Homo sapiens: one gene and its partners. The protein of the gene in region 3 purifies or fractionates together with the protein of the main gene of each other region. This does not show direct contact. Each region holds a gene or a part of one and is shown on either strand. Other genes may lie near its edges. The genes, in order: VRK3, XPO5 and TXNDC5.

Evidence for each region.
Region 1: the proteins of TXNDC5 (region 3) and VRK3 purify together in Homo sapiens (affinity purification with mass spectrometry; 2 studies listed by BioGRID and IntAct, with this or other methods). This does not show direct contact.
Region 2: the proteins of TXNDC5 (region 3) and XPO5 fractionate together in Homo sapiens (co-fractionation; one large-scale study listed by BioGRID). This does not show direct contact.

Annotation. Positions count from the first base shown.
Region 1 is NC_000019.10:49,994,229-49,997,878, forward strand, and holds part of VRK3 (serine/threonine-protein kinase VRK3), read right to left. Parts: intron 3,343-3,650; coding exon 3,276-3,342; intron 1,048-3,275; coding exon 963-1,047; intron 692-962; coding exon 586-691; intron 1-585. UniProt on the Homo sapiens protein: Plays a role in the regulation of the cell cycle by phosphorylating the nuclear envelope protein barrier-to-autointegration factor/BAF that is required for disassembly and reassembly, respectively, of the nuclear envelope during mitosis.
Region 2 is NC_000006.12:43,558,891-43,562,540, forward strand, and holds part of XPO5 (exportin-5), read right to left. Parts: intron 3,518-3,650; exon of another isoform or gene 3,457-3,517; coding exon 3,357-3,456; exon of another isoform or gene 2,510-3,356; intron 2,118-2,509; coding exon 2,034-2,117; intron 1,414-2,033; coding exon 1,288-1,413; intron 1-1,287. UniProt on the Homo sapiens protein: Mediates the nuclear export of proteins bearing a double-stranded RNA binding domain (dsRBD) and double-stranded RNAs (cargos). XPO5 in the nucleus binds cooperatively to the RNA and to the GTPase Ran in its active GTP-bound form.
Region 3 is NC_000006.12:7,900,699-7,904,348, reverse strand, and holds part of TXNDC5 (thioredoxin domain-containing protein 5 isoform 1 precursor), read left to right. Parts: intron 1-3,650. UniProt on the Homo sapiens protein: Protein disulfide isomerase of the endoplasmic reticulum lumen involved in the formation of disulfide bonds in proteins. Can reduce insulin disulfide bonds.

The DNA of each region.
Region 1 (3,650 bases), on a different chromosome or scaffold from region 3:
TCATAGTTTGTGCAACTGTTTGATTCACTATTGGCCCCTCCCACTAGACTGTGAGCTCTAAGACACAGAAACCATGTTTATGCTGCTCCCTGCTCTGCACCCAGCCCCGGGGACAGCGTCTGGCACCCAGCAAGTGCCTGATGAATATTTAATGGGGATGAATGAATGAACTAATGAACAAATGCCATATGCTCTCCCTTCCACACAAGCCTTGCCCCAGCTGTATCCTTGGCCGGACCATCCTCTCCTCATCTATCCTCTTCCTCTTCCACCCAGCACTTTGCTATTTCCACTCATCCTGAGAGTCTTGGCTTAGAAACACCCTCCACCAGGAAGCCTAATCTAAGCCTTCAGTTTGAGGCCGGGGCTCCTTCCTCCAATGCTCATGGCCCCCCAAGGGCCCTCCACAGGACTGACCACCCATCATCTCGGCTCTAACCGCCTGCCATGGCAGTCAGTGAGCCAGCCCCCAGTGTGCAGCGGAGGGGGGTGGGGGCCGGAAGTGTCAATGACTAAAGTGCCTGCTAAACTAGGATGTGATGTGCCCTCCCTGACGCGGCAGCTGAGCAACTTCTGGGTACGCACCAGCCGGCAGGCCACCTGCAGCACAGACCTCTCTGACAGCACATGCTTTGGGCTGACATCCAGGGCCGACTGAAGGCTCCTCCCCAGGCTGGGTAACACCAAGAACCTGGAAGACACAAGCACCCCAGGAGGTGGGAGATGAACAGGGGAGAGAGGAGTACCGGCCGCCAAGGATGGACTGTTGCGTGGGCTGCAAGGTCCTGGTCCCAGGTGAGATCAAAGGTTCTGACTGGCTGGGCAGCAAACTAGGTCAAAACTACGAGAAGGCAGGAAGCAAAGACCTGGCCCACGGCTTCGGGGTCCCAGCCATGCCTGGAGTCACAACAGGAAGAAGAGGAAAGAGGCCGGTGAGGCAAGCAGTGAGCAGAGCAGCTCACCTGTATTTGTCCTGGTGAACACCGAAACCCATGCAGGTAGGGATGGCCAGCAGTGGGGTCGAGTACAGCTTCTTCCACTTGTTGACTGCGGAAAGCAGGGGCTTGAGGTTAGAACCCACCCAGTCCCAAGCCCATGGCAGTAAGAGCTAGTTCTCAGAGAAGAAGCACAGAGTGCCCAGACCGCCTCCAAGTCTCCTTGTTGGAGGTGACAACATTGTGGGTGGGTGATGGTGGGAAGGGGCTGGTGACAGGGCAGGCATGGGTGACCATGAATGTCTGTGATCCAGGTCTGCAGGTGATGGGGTGATCATGGTGGCTCTGGAGGAAGCATATACAAGTCTGGAGTGCAGAGATGGGATAATGACAGGGTTACTTCCGAATTCACACATAGAGCTAACAAGATCAACACGTGTCTAACCTAGCCATGGCATCACCGGAATGTGCCTCTGCCTGTCTTCCAGATCTCAGTGGGGTGGACCAGAACCAATGGCGAGCTGATGCTAGTTTAACAGCTGGCTATCCAGGGAAGGCAGTCCTGATGGGTAGCATTTGCTAATTTCTTTTTTCTTTTTTTTTGAGACGAAGTTTTGCTCTGTCGCCCTGGATGGAATACAATGGCGCGATCTTGGCTCACTGCAACCTCCGCTTCCTGATTTTAAGCAATTCTCCTGCCTCAGCCTTCCATGTAGCTGGGATTGCAGGCTTCTGCCACCAGGCCCAGCTAATTTTTTTTTATTTTTTATTTTTTTTGAGATGGAGTCTTCGTCTGTCACCAGGCTGGAGAGCAGTGGCGTGATCTCGGCTCACTGCAACCTCCACCTCCCAGGTTCAAGTGATTCTCCTGCCTCAGCCTCCCGAGTAGCTGGGATCACAGGCACGTGCCACCACATCCAACTAATTTTTGTATTTTTAGTAGAGATGGAGTTTCACCATGTTGGCCAGGATGGTCTCAATCTCCTGACCTCATGATCCGCCCGCCTCGGCCTCCCAAAGTGCTGAGATTACAGGCATCAGCCACCACGCCCGGCCTTTTTTTTTTGTATTTTCAATAGAGATGGGTTTTGCCATGTTGGCCAGGCTGGTCTCGAACTCCTGACCTCAGGTGATCCACCGGCCTCCGCCTCCAAAAGTGTGGGAATTACAGGCATGAGCCACCGCGCCCGACTGCATTTGCTAATTTCTGCAGTGTAAATAAATACTCCTGCTATGGCCAACTCCAAGCTACCAACATGACATGACTGGAGGTGGGGTGGGAGAGATATACAGGGGAGGCCATCATGCAGCATTCTCACCACACAGAGACAATAGTGCACACAACCTCACTGGCAGAGATCACAGGACATGTAGGAAATAATTAGGAAGTGATGAATTTCTGAGGGTTCATTACCTTTGTTTTGAATATAATTTATTTGTAAAATTATGTAACTTATTTTATATATTTTTTGAGACTAAGTCTCACTCTATCGCCCAGACTGGAGTGCAGTGGCATGATCTCGGCTCACTGCAACCTCCACCTTCCAGGTTCGAGTGATTCTCCCACCTCAGCCTCCCATGTAGCTGAGATTACAGGCACACGCCACCACGCCTGGCTAATTTTTGTATTTTTAGTAGAGATGGGGTTTCACCATGTTGGCCAGGCTACTCTTGAACTCCTGACCTCAGGTGATCTACCCACCTCAGCCTGCCAAAGTGCTAAGACTACAGGCATGAGCCACCACGCCTGGCCTATATAATTTAATTGCTAGTACTGGCTGTCTGTAACAACCAGCTTGCCATCTTCCTAAAAATTTATTTTTATTTTTATTTTTTTTGGAGACAGGGTCTGGCTCTGTTGCTCAGGCTGGAGTGCAGTGGCACAATCACAGCTCACTGCAATCTCTGTCTCCCGGGCTCAAGCAATTCTCTCAGCTCAGCCTCTTGAGTAGCTGGGATCACAGGTGCATGCCATTACACCCGGCTAATTTTTGTATTTTCAGTAGAGATAAGGTTTTGCCACATTGCCCAGGATGGTCTCAAACTCCTGGCCTCAAGTGATCTGCCCACCTCAGCCTCCCAAAGTGCTGGGAGTATAGGCGTCAACCCACGCCCAGCCTGAAAATTTAATACTTGGCTTCCAAGAGCTGGTGTGAGCCAGTCACAACACACACTGAGGCCTGAGGGGTCACAGGAGTCAGGTTATGGACACAGATGGGAGCAAACCTGGGCCTTTAATCTAAGCCCACCCTTCTCATGCCTGCAGGTAGAAGTCAAGTGCTGTGACCAAGTTGGCGCCCCCCTCACTCTCCCCTCCTTGCCCAGTTCCCTGTCAGGTACCTTGCAGAGGCTTGGCGGCCCGCTGGAAGAAGTTCTGCTCATTGAACAAGCGCCCATCCTTGGCATCCTGGTGGGGGACAGGAGGGGCAGAAGGCTGTCACACTGAAGTCTCAGATAAGGGCCCCCAGTCCCCACTGGCAATTTGTTACTCCCTCAATGACCAGGCTCCTCATCAAGTCCCCACATCGGAGCCAAATTCCTCAGGTACTGCACACAAACACACATCAGAGACTGCGAGCTACCTTGCTGTACCCAGGTTCCTTTTCTTTCTCTTATGGTAAGAGCCACAGTGTTCCCTAGAATGTAGCCTTCAGCATAAAAACTACGTTTCCCAGCTTCCTTTGCAGTGAGGACTGACCACATGACCAAGTTCTG
Region 2 (3,650 bases), about 36 Mb from region 3:
TAAGGAAGAAAGAACTGAGAGCTACTTGCCTCAAATACTGAACACTGAGAATAAACTTGTAGAACTTTGTATGTTTCATTCAGAAAAGAATTGAAGACCATGGCAGAAAATAAGAACACAGTGTGGCCGGGTGCGGTGGCTCACGCCTGTAATCCCAGCACTTTGGGAGGCCGAGGCGGGTGGATTGCCTGAGCTCAGGAGTTTGAGACCAGCCTGGGAAAAACAGTAAAACCCTGTCTCTACTAAAATACAAAAAATTAGCCAAGTGTGGTGGTGGGCACCTGTAGTCCCAGCTACTTGGGAGGCTGAGGCAGGAGAATTGCTTGAACCCAGGAGGCAGAGGTTGCAGTGAGCCAAGATCGTGCCACTGCACTCCAGCCTCGGTGACAGGGTGAGACTCCGTCTCAAAAAAAAACACAGAACACCAGTGTGTGCTATGTGCTAGGCAAATTCCTTAAGAAAATAAGGGGACCCTTGAATGTGCACCATTCTCTGATGTTACAAATTGAGATTAACAATCTGTCAACTGCAAGAGCTCTTAGCAGGGAATTCATGAGCAACTCTCTACTGAGGTAGTGAGCAATCTTTGCTTCCACTCTCACTCCCCTCATTTCCCTTTGTAACTCTCACTTGGCCTCCAGAAGCAATGCTTAGATATTGCCTCCTCTTGGAATCTTCCTGACTCAACCCTCCTATGTACTTCCAAAGCATTCTGCTTTTAACCCCTGAATAGCAATTATTACATTGTATGGTCACTGCTCTTGCCCTAGCACCTAGCCCAATACTTATGATATATTAAGTACTCTCATATGGAAGAGCAGTTATAATAACCAGTAAGGACTGATTTCTTCCTAAGGAATAAGAAAATATGTCCAGTAAAGGAATCTTAGTGATGAAGAAGGGCTGTTAATAATGCCAATCAGTCTTTTTTATGTTTCCCCCGAGACAGGGTCTCACTCTCATTGCCTAGGCTGGAGTGCAGTGCTGCGATCTCAGCTCAATGCAGCTTCAACTTCCCAAGCTCAGGTGATCCTCCCACCTTAAGCCTCCCCAGTAGCTGGGTCTACAGGTGCATACCAACATGCCCTGCTAATTTTTTTGTATTTTTAGTAGAGACGAGGTTTTGCCATGTCGCACAGGCTGGTCTCCAACTCCTGGGCTCAAGCGATCCTCCCGCCTCAGCCTTCCATAGAGCTGGGATTATAGGCGTGAGCCACCGCACCCAGCCTCAAAGTCTTATTATGTGTATTCACCTACATTCCACATGTTTAGATTCCCATTATATACCTTGACCAAGTTAGTCATGGAAGCACGAAGATATTTTGGTATTATTGCTAATAGCAAAGGATCACGGGACAGGATTTCATGCCTGAAGAGGGCTCCCCAAGTCATCTGAGTTGAAGAGCGTAGAAACTAAAGAGAAAAAAAAAAGAAAACGTCAAAGGATTTGGATTCTATATAACCCAGATTATTACTTAGCAGTTATCAACTACATTTTTTCATAGAAATAAATCTGTACAATACTTTGAAGCTGTCTCTACTGCAATTTATCAGTAATGACCACCCACTATGGACCACATGTTAGTAAGACAGGCTGTGGATCAAGGAAATTACCTGGAATGTGAGCTGAATTTTACTACTTTCTCTTCTTTGCAAAAAAGGATACTGGAATCTCAGAGTGATATTAGAAGGACAATTTTGAACAGAGTGAAATTAATTTTATAATACAATTAATCAGACTTTTGTTTCAAAAATCTTTATAACTTTAGTACTAAACCACCTGGGACACACCTCACATGTGACTGAGTACAATCAGAATATTACCTAAAGGGAAAAGCTGCTGACCTAGACAAGTGCACTGTTTGGCTCAGGAAGAAGAGCCAATAATTCTCTTAATGAAATGACACTACGGTCATTCCCCAAGGCCTGAAGAGTCACATTTTATACATGATCTACAATAATATTTCAGGACACAGTGCTTGACATTGGTTCACCTAACTAAACTTTTGAGAAGTTACCTGTATAAAGTTTACCTGACTTGGATGGGTTGTGAAAGCAAGAAAAGATTCCAGGTATTTTCCAAAGTTTGATGGTGTTTCTACATCAGAATCTGCACCCTGTAGGAGAAGACCACTATATTAACGGTGTTGATCGAGAAAAGCAGGAGAGGAAAAAGCAGGGAAGTAATAAAAACAGATAAATTAAACCCTCAAAAAATGTTGTTTCAAAAGGACTTTGTATTTCCTTTTGGCTAAAGAAAGGCATCACTTCAAGGGCTAAAATATAGGTTACTTTGCCTACTCAATCATCATCATTACTTTGCCTACTCAATCATCATCATTAAAACCCATTCTGTGGTCAAACAGTAAAATAAAAAACACTCATTTCAGAAATTACAGAAAGAAAAAAAATCTGTATTACTTCCTCAGACCTTACCTATTCACATCTCTGTGTCCCAACCTATTACCTAATCCCTTCAATAGTTTCTTTTCTTTTTTTTTTCTTTTAGATGGAGTCTCACTCTGTTGCTCAGGCTGGAGAGCAGTGGCACGATCTCGGCTCACTGCAACCTCTACCTCCAGGGTTCAAGCAATTCTCCTGCCTCAGCCTCTCGAGTAGCTGGGATAACAGGCATGCACCACCACGCCTGGCTAATTTTTGTATTTTTAGTAGAGACAGGGTTTCACCATGTTGGCCAGGCTAGTCTCAAACTCTTGACCTCAGGTGATCTGCCCACCTCACCCTCCCAAAATGCTGGGATTACAGGCATGAGCCATTGCACCTGGCCCCCTCAATGGTTGCTTATCTCTGAAACTATCCTCTCTAACCATTTAAACCACCACAAAAAGATATAACATCAATTGCAAATGTCTGTTCCAATGTCCTATCTTCCAACTTATAAGACTGAGTATTAAATATTTCTCTAATGGCAGGTTTTCCAGGTCAATCAGACTCAAGTTTTCTTTTGTGCTCCAATAATACATCCCTTAGATTGGGAAAAGAGTTCTTTATTCAAGTCCATGTTTCGTGGGCTAACAGAATGTAAAAGCATAAAGCACTCAGCAGATTGAGGTTCTGTAAGTACCAAAATTCACAAGAAACCAACGTTGACTTTATGGAATAATAGACGTGGATATCTGACGTTGGTATAACTATTTTATTGTTAAAAGAAATTTAGATCACTCAAACACTATTCTATTAAGATAATTTAATCTATAGAATCATGCAATAACTTGTATGGCACTGCCCCATCAGGCTAAAATCAATGACATTTGCAACCCCTCATTGAAACATAAGTTTCTAAATGCTCTTCCCAAATGGGCTTGAAGCTCTCCAGAAAGCAAACACTAGCTCACCAGCAATGCACACAGCTGATTGCCCAGCGCACACAACACCTGACAGAGCCTCTTCAGAAAGACGTAGTGTTTTTCTACCAAACCTCCTCCATCAGCAGTCCTGTAAGATGAGAATTCCTTATATCACCAACAAAATTAAAAAGGCTGTAATAAAAACATCACTTTGTGTCTCATTTCTCCAAGTCATTTAGTTAGGTCTGTAATTCAGCAGAATTCCAATAGCTTTGCTAAATTAAAAATTTTTTAAAATCTTTTTAACTTATTTGGTGGCAAAACCTGACCTAAAATGATATA
Region 3 (3,650 bases):
TGCAAGAGAAAAATGACGGTCCCGCCATGCTAGATGTTCACCGGTACATTTTACACAGTGTGCATGGACTGTCATCAGTTTTGGCTTGCTTTTGCTGGTGACTTATTCGCAAACACCCTTCCTATAGTTCCTTCCCGTGTGACTCCCACAGGGCTGTTCCTGTTGGAAAGAAAGTATAGAGTCTGACAGACGATGATACTTACTTCCTTGACAGTTAAGAATTTTTTTGGTTATAAGAAATAGAAATTGAAATGTTCTCAATTCTAGAAATAGAATTGTTCTCTTATTAAACAGAAAGAAAGGACTATTTAAAAGGCTGTGGAGGAACCTCTGAGAGCCAGCTCCAGGGGCCTGGGGTCTGTTTCTCCTGCACCTCCCTTGAGATGACGGCTTTCCAGGCCTGTATCTCTGTTTGCACAGAAGGGCCCACCACTGACTGGCCCTGCTTGGCTGGAATGTTCGTTCCAGGAATAGTCACTGTGGCCAGGGAAACAGGAGCTTATAGCAAGACACATGCCCATTCACACCATGTGCCAAGTGTTGGAGGGAAAAGCAGTTCTTCAAAAAAGAGAAGAAGCTGTTTCTGAAGGAGGTGGAGGGATTGCCACGGTCACTTCCTTGCTGTTTGTTTCAATTGAGGAATGAAGTCAATTCTATACAATTTATTGCTTAATTGAATAATATAGGGGTCCATCAATAAAGCAAAAAATTGGAGCTTATATTCAAACCTGGGAGGCAGAAAAGTGGAGGGATCTCCAGGCTTGAACCTAGAAGTCGTAGTCAAATCCCAGCTCTACCATTTACTTACCACCCAGCTCTGACCTCATCACTTAACCTGTAAGTAAGGTGATCCCCCAAACATTGTTACAGGACTTACATGGAATGTGTGCAGACACCAATCTGAGCACACCCAATACATGTTAGGGTTTTCCCTACCATTTGGAAATGTGGGCGTTTCCACAAAGGACCCTGGAATTCTTGGTCTTTGGTGACTGCTTGCTAATGTAAGTGCCATAATTTGGGTTTACTTTAAATCAGATCAATGGAGATAAAATTGCTTACTATCTGTATCTACGTAAAAGCATTAACTATTCTATGCTTTATAGTATTGCATTGAAAGTATGGATCAAGAGCATCCCAAAGAAGCAGGTAGTGAGCAGAGATGAGGGCGAGGAGGTGAATGCTTACCTGTTGAGAAACTGTTGCTTTCAAAGTTCAGGGGCAGCAGGGGTGAGCTGGCTGTGGTGTCTTTCCTCTTAACCTGCTGACCATCTGTGGCCTGAGACTATGTGCATCACACACCATGCCACAGGGAAGGTGACACAGGACCTGTAATGGAGCTGAGAGTGGTATGTGTTATGGGGCTTCAGAGAAGGAAGTGAAGGCTTCCACCTCAGCCTGGCCATAACAGCTGTCAGCTGCAATATCAGCTACTCCATAGTTGGTATTCACCAAAAACCATCACAAATTTAAAAAGTCACAAATGTAAAAAGTCACAAATTTAAAAAGGCCCATGTTGGATCATGTGTTTAGATTTTTAATGAGAAGAGCTGGTCTCCCCAAGTAAACCATGGCTGGTTTTGTGTTATTAAAAAGAACAAAAATGAACGTACACCACACTGAACACAGTTTGGGAAGGAACCTCTGTGACCATCACTGCCCTGCAGAAGCTCCAAGAACAGATTATTTTCCCCCCGAGAATGCAGGAGGTGGAATGTGCTGTGTGCAATGTGGTCGCACTGGGGCATCTGTAGATTGACTTGAGCGAGCTTTGACTCCTCTAAGACAAGTGCCCATCCCATAGAGTGGTTGTGAGGCCCGAGGCAGGTGACGACTGTACCTGCCTGAGTCCAGGCATGTGTCAGGACATGAGCTTTCACGTTATTCTTTCCTGGCAAGTGTAACTGGAGTAAAGGATTGGAGGGGCAGGGAGTTTGGGCTCCCACGCTCCCTAGAGATGGCTGGCTGTGCTCAGGAAAATGTTTTGAGGTCTTCCTGTTGGGCCAGTCATGAATCATTACAGCAGGGCAGGACTGACGGGGGGAACTACCTGTGTTAGTTTCCTAGGCTGCTGTAACAAAGTTCCACAAACCGGGTGGCCAGAAACAATAGAAATGTATTCTCTGCAGTCCTGGAGGCCAGAGGTCCTAAATCAAGGAGCCAGCAGGGTCATGCTCCCTCTGAAACCTGTAGGGGAATCCTCCCTTGCCTCGTCCTGGCTCCTGTTGGTTTCCTGGTCATCTTTGGCGTTCCTTGGCTTGTAGATGCATCACTGCCGTCCTCTGTCCTCACATGCCCTTCTCTCTCTGTGTGTGTGTGTCTCTCTGTGTCCAAACCCTTCTTACAAGGACACCAGTCATGCTAGATTGGGGCCCATCCTAGTGACCTCATTTTAACTTGAATATCTCTGTAAAGACCTTATTCTAAATAAGGTCACCTTCTGAGATTGATGGTTATGACTTACACAGATCTGTCTTGCAGGACACAGTTCAACTGATAACACTGTCTACGGTAGTAGAACTTTCATCATGCTGTTTGCCAAGGCAGTACCTACATGGGGATTTTCTCCCTGCAGTCTCCTTGAAAAAGGAGACTCAAATGCCCATGTGGAGGCTTGGTAATAGCGGAAATCTGGGGCAATACTTTGTTTGGGCTTGTACCCTGTGGCCCAGTCTCCATCACCTCCCTCACCCCTGTCGACAGTGAGAATTGAAGTCAGATGTCCCAAACTCACTGCAAGGTCTGGACCAGAAGTGTCCGCTCTGTCCCTGGGCTCTGTGAACTTACCGAGGAAGAATCTCAGACTTCCTGGGCAGGTTAGAACGATTATCAGTCCAACAACAAGAAGATGGTTTTTTTTAAATTATTTGTTTTGCAAATGAATAGCAAATTACAAAAAAATCATAGGCTAGGTCTTACTGTATTTTACTTTTAGCAAAGACACAAGTGTGACCGTCCCTGGTCCTTTCTGATGTCTTGAGGATCCACCCATTTCCCTTCCTGAAGAGCGTTAGCGGGAGGCAGAGCCGTGCAGGAAGCAGTTTCTGTTTCCAGGTGCGGAACACACCTTGTGGGAGCCTGGGGAGGTGCCAGGCTAGGTGAGGGCAATCATCTTTGATACCGCAGATGTTGCAGTTGCTTATCATGTTGAACTTCGTGACGTAGCCGGTGTACTGGCCAAATCTAGTTAAGTTTTGGCTGTTTTTTGTGGTTATGAGAGTCTGAGCTGCTGAGGAAGCTGGGTGTATATTCTGCACTGGAGACACATTAGGGACCCTACCTATGCCCCATCATACCATCTTAGGTTCTGGGTAAGGCCAGTATGCTGATACTAATTTCAAAGCCTAATCTAGCCATGTGACTTCATTTTAAGGAGAATTAGCCATTTTTTTTTGGACTGAATGTGTGTGTACCCCAGCATTCATAGGGGAAATCCTAATCCCCAATGCTGGCAATAGGAGGTGGGGCCTTTGAGAGGGAGCAGGTTATTAGGGTGGAGCTCTCATGAATAGGGTTGCATACCTTATGAAAGAGGCCCCAGAGAGTTCTGTTTCCCCTTTTGCCATGTGAGGGCACAGCAAGAAGACACCATCTGTGAACCAGAAAGCCCTCACCAGACACTGACTCTGCTGGCACCTTGATCTCAGACT